Regions from separate parts of the Homo sapiens genome. Here region 1 is linked to region 2. The links come from fine-mapping of genetic effects on gene expression. A gene starts in region 2. The other region holds a variant in brackets. All regions are shown on one strand. Distances are from middle to middle. Region 1 overlaps C12orf75 (chromosome 12 open reading frame 75). Region 2 holds the start of CASC18 (cancer susceptibility 18).

Region 1 (2,500 bases), 370 kb before region 2:
GGGATCTTGGGTGGGGGGCGCGCAGCCCCCTCTCCCCGTCCCCATTTTCGGGACAGGAGCAGACCGCCCGTTTCTGGAAAGACCGAAAGCGTGGCAAGTCCCCCGCGCGGGGGCGGTTGCGCCTGGAGCAGTCGAGCCTGCGGGGCGTCTCTGCCGAGGGAGCGCGGGGAGGACTGTCGCGGGCTCCCCTGCAGCCGCCGGGGCTCACCTGCAGCTGGCGGGTCTCAGGGCTCTCCTGGGGGAGAGGATTCCCGGACGTGGTCCCCGGCCGCTCCCCCACCTCCCACACTTGCTCCTCCAGGCCTCTCCCCCATCTCCTCGGAACCAAGGCGCTGCACCTGGAAAAGTGCAGCAGAGCAAGACAGGACTTTTCGGGCAGTGGTGGTGGGGCAGGAAGCGGGGAAGGGTGGGAGTGGGGTTGGGGAGAACTAGAAGCAGAGCTGCAAAAACGCATCTGTGTCTGCCTTGATGCCGAAGACCGGCTGGGCTGCTCTTAGGATTTCTCTGAGAAGCTGCAGCAGTAAGGATGTTTTACATATGTGAGACAGAGCTTTATTATTAACAGTCTGTTAAGATACTTTTCATTAAACACACACACACACACACACACACACACACACAAATAGAAACTTCTTTTTATACCACTTCATGTTGATTGGCAGGCAAGGTCTTCTAGCTTCCCCGGGCCAGCCAGGCTTTGTGTCAAGTGACTTTTGCCAAAACTCACCCTTCTATTTCACCCTGCCTATGTCTCGGGATTTAAGGTACCCTGGATCTGTTTTGAGTAATAACTGCTGACCTATTTCAGTGTCCTTTTGGATAAAGAGCTCCTATCTCCTCCAATTGAAGTCAACCAGATGCCACATCCTAGCCTAACCAGCAAATGCAAACAGCAGTCAGAGGCTGCGGTATTTCCTAGGCGGCTGTGGAGGCCCTGGCAATGACTTTGTAACCTTGGGCCTGTCACATCCCTTAACCCAGACGCCGGTAAAAAATGGAGTTTAAGACTCAATTTGAGTCTTGAATTAAATCCTGTCCTGGTGACAATGCAGAGAGCCACAGGAGAGCGAACTTTTTAGATTCATTTAACAGTGGGGAAGGTTAGTGTAGCACCTTATGCTAATGAGGGCAGACGGGCTTCAAACCTGCCTGTGGCCAGAAAGCTCTGCTTGTATGAAACAATGTCAGGGCCACACCCCGCACTCAAATTGTGTCTCAGTCTACTAGGTACTGTGGCCGTATGCAATCCACTGCATGTGTAGCCTACTTAAAAAAGGTGAAGAAAAGTTATCCACATTAAAAAAAATTGTAGGAAGGATTTGTAGCAGATTTCCCTTAAAATGAGGCTAGTTTCATGCATGTACATTTTGATTTATTAATGAACTGCTTGTCAGTTTTAGGGATGGGGAGGGGGTACCATTGCCAAATGAAAATCAGAATGATGGACCAGGCGCAGTGACTCATGCCTGTGTAATCCCAGCACTTTGGGAGGCTGGGGTGGGTGGATCA[T/C]CTGAGCTCAGGAACTCGAGACCAGTGTAACCAACATGGTGAAACCCAGTCTCTACTAAAAATACAAAATTAGCTGGGCGTGGTGGCGCCTGCTTGTAATCCCAGCTATTTGGGAGGCTGAGGCACGAGAATTGCTTGAACCTGGGAGGCGGAGGTTGCAGTGAGCTGAGATCGCACCATTGCACTCCAACCTGGGCAACAAGAGTGGAACTCCGCTCCATCTAAAAAAAAAAAAAAAGAAAAGAAAAGAAAATAGAAAGATGGTAAGGTATGATGAGCTAGCTCTAAAATGTTAATGTAAAAATCAAATTTGGGGGGAAAATATGATTTCTTGGGGAAATATGATTATCTTTATGAATATTTGATTGACTTTTTCCCTAGGAGCATCTCTCTTATCACCTAAAGGGAAGTCATATTGAAAAAAAAAAAAAAAGCTACCGAAAGAGTAGTTTGAGGAGCAGCCTCACTTTTGTTTGTGGACAGTGCATGTGAGAGCATGCTATTCTCTCCTCCAGCTTGCTGTTTGCCAAAAATTACTTTTTGTTCAGAGGAGAGAAGGATATTGAGTGCAGATTCAAAACATGCAGGAGACAACATGATGAGCAGGGAGTTATTGCATCACCTCTTTGATGGATATGCCCTTGTCTTGGAGAAGCCATTCCCAAACATTTGCCTGCCTGTGAGTCCACCTGGCTGACTTTGGGATTTGGTCATTGTTATTTTGAAATGTTCTGTCAGTTGGTGTTAGGAATTTAGGTTCAGAGAGGAAATACATCAGGATGAGAGATGTAAAGAAAAATAAACCACAATGCAAAGGTACTGAAAATCTCAGCTGTGAGCTTGGGCATCAGCGTCAATTGCACTGTTGACCAAGCTGCACACTAGGAGGACTGAACCCGAGCAATACGAAACGCGTTAAAGAGATATTGTCTTTCTCTTCTAGTTACTTACAGTGCACTACTTCCAATATGTCCCAGGAGTCATAGAATTC
Region 2 (3,027 bases):
AAATAGGGCAGAGTAGGAGTTCTGATTTCTGCTCTTTCTTACATATGCCTTAGGCTGCAAGTTGCCTTCTCCTCTCTTCTTTTTCCTTTTAACGCTGTCCTTAGGGTCGTCATCACCTGATTTTACTGCAGAGACTTGGTGAGGCAGAAAAAGGTGAACCCCGGGCTTTTCCCTGCCTGAGAAGTCCCAACCTGTGAGCTAGATTTATATACAGCAGTGGATTGAGCAGTGCTTCTCAATCCTGGCTGCACTTTAGAATGACCTGAGGCTTGGCCCGCACCCTAGACAAATTAAATCAGAATAACTGGAATGGAGGTCCAGGTATTGAAATTTTTCAAAAGCTCCCAAGTGATTCTGTTTCATAGTGAAGTTGAGAACCACTGGCAAACCATAATATGGATACCTCTAAAAATCTTAGTGTTGAGTGCAAAAGGTGGTAAACGATTTATAGCACGTTACTACTTAAGGATATTAAACTTTAATATACACACAAAACCAAGTTCTGTGTTTTTTGGAGATAATCTAAGGACATATAAGAAATCCCAGGAAGGAAGACAGGAGAGGGAAATGGGAGGAAACAGGAGCGAGAATAGAGAATAAATGGGGAAATATAAAATAAAACAAGACAGCGAGATTACACAGACCTTAAAGACTAAAAAGCGTGGCTCCCAAACATCAAATCACCATAGTTAGTATGAACAGGGCAGTCATGTGTACTAGACACAGTGTAATTGGTTTACACACCTTATGTCTGTTAATCTTCATAACAACTCTGAGGTAGGTGTTACTATTTAGAGTCATTTTATAGAGGAGGAAACTAAGGCTTAACCAAGATCATACAACTAGTAAGTGACAGATTTGGGTATAAGCCCTGTCTACCTGGATGGAGTCCAGGCTCTGTTTGCTCCATTCATCACCTCTTTGAGTCCTCTCGAGCACCTGCTGGAAAGAAAATGTCCTCCTCCCCAAGCCCACGTCTCTGCTAGGCAGCTCAGGAACCACCAGCACATACTTCATCCCAGCCCTTGCCAAAGATGGGAATGAGAATGACCATCCAATGTTCTGTGCCCAATGCAGAAGAAAACCTACACATACAACCTTCCTGACCTGGAAACATCCAAAATCAGCCTCAGTTTCCTAATGAGCCTTTCCCTGCCTGAAAAGTCCCAACCCGTGAGCTAGATTTATATACAGCAGTGGATTGAGCAGTGCTTCCCAATCCTGGCTGAAGACGAGCAATGTTTGTTGGGTTCAAGGAATAGAAAAAAGCCTCGCATGGCTGGAATAGAAGAGGAAGATGGTGGGTGCTGCAGCAGAGAAGGCAGGGGCTCAGAGCTCTTCACTTCCCACCAGACATTCCTTTTCCCTTGGGGATGGACTGAGCATGTGGAAGATTTTCCATGCAACTTCATATCCACTGTTCACAACACCTGCCTCTGAGGACGTGATCTTCCTACCAATCTCAGGACCTTTCAAAATTAATTATAATAAAAATGTATTTATTGAGGCAGGCATAAATATTAGTCTCCATTTTCTTCAGAGAAAACAGAAGCATACAGCGGTAGCTTGAACAAAATTTCCCAACCAGAAAGGGATGAGGGAGGAGAGACCGGAAGTACAAGCTCCTCTTATCTGAGTTGCCGCCGTCTAGAGGTGAGCTGATTTTCTGACAGCCCCTTCTCCTCTCCTCACTGGATATCCAGTTTCCAGGTAGGTCCTTCCAGGTAGGCGCCCCCCTGACCTCAATGCGTGCTCCAGCTCTGGGGTGCATTCACAGGGGTAGGACATAGAAGGTAAACTCTGACCAGCTGCATGTGCAGCTACCTCTGCAGAAAAAATCAAGAGGCGCTGGAAGCCCTTCTCCCTTTGCTTAACAACATCTCCCCTGCTGCCCCACAGCAGTATCTGAAGTTCCCCTGTTGGCTTATGGAAATAAAGGCTTTTGTTAAAATATAAATCTGTAATCTGACGGGATGTGAAAAGATTAAGGGACGGGCTGCCCAAACTTTACTGTGCTTGACACTCAACTTATAAGTGTATTGGAAATGCAGATCTTAGGTTCTTATACCACAGATTCTGATTCAACAGGCACCAAATGGGGCCCAGGTAGCTGCAATTCCAACAAACACTTCAGGTGTTTCTGATGCTCGTGTTCTCTGAATCTCGTTTTGAGAAACACTGTGTGACTATGAACTCTTCAATTAGTTAATGAGACTTGGCCCAGAGGTCAATTTTGTCTATAATGAAGCAGAGAGGAGAAAGACACAGCTGCTCCCCCTCTGACTTGGTCTTTCTCTGTCCCGTTCAAAGCTGTGTTCATAGCTCAGGGCTTTAAGAGAGAGTGTTCAGAGCCCTAACTCAGAAGGACCGCCTGGAGACCTGCCAGGGTTTTGCCTAGACACACGTCACACCTTTACAGGGGTGGCGAAGGCTTGTGCTATCTCAAGACCTCACGCAGTACTTCTCAGTTTAATGGGCCCACTCAAGAGGTAAACGTGGAAAAAGAAAAGTTATATGCACACACACCCACACCCACACCCACACCCACACACACACACACACAGAGCAATAAAACAGGAGCAATTTATTCATAAGATTCTAAGTCATGAATTGTCTCTACTTACAAAATATTAGCCTATAAATTATGATTCTGCCAAGCTTCATTTTGAACAAACCCACAATCTCAGAAACATCAGCAGTTCAACTGCAGAGAGAGATGATGAGGTGGCTTGAGAAGAGTGACAGAAATGTCTCTGGATGGGATTCTGGACCTTCTGGGAGGAGGCTTCTTTGAAGGCCACCTGGCGATCGCGTGGTTTCTGATTCTCCCCGTAGTGATCGTGCCTTCCCAGGTACTGAATGGATCTCTTTGAGCTCTTTGCGTGGCCGATGTGTGAACTTTTGGCATGGCCAGTGTGTTCAGTGGGAGTGCTGGGGTTTACAATTGGAGGAAGGATACCGACTCCCTTTATGGCTGGAGCTTCTTGGGATTCCTAAGTGTCACCTTGGTCCACAAGTAGCTGTTAA

What was found.
Region 1: its variant is fine-mapped to the expression of CASC18 in tibial artery (GTEx, PIP 0.92).

The regions. Positions count from the first base shown.
Region 1 is chr12:105,331,004-105,333,503 of GRCh38, forward strand. The region is part of intron 1 of C12orf75 (chromosome 12 open reading frame 75); the gene reads left to right. Among named protein-coding and RNA genes, the nearest start is that of C12orf75, 1.6 kb to the left of the region's middle. RefSeq lists a silencer at 14-113 and an enhancer at 770-1,313. The variant T/C (reference allele first, on the strand shown) is at 1,510.
Region 2 is chr12:105,702,547-105,705,573 of GRCh38, forward strand. CASC18 (cancer susceptibility 18) reads left to right here and starts at 1,657. Exons shown (of 5, transcript NR_110109.1): 1 at 1,657-1,710. LOC105369959 (a long non-coding RNA gene) reads right to left here. Exons shown (of 3, transcript XR_945309.3): 3 at 2,570-3,020.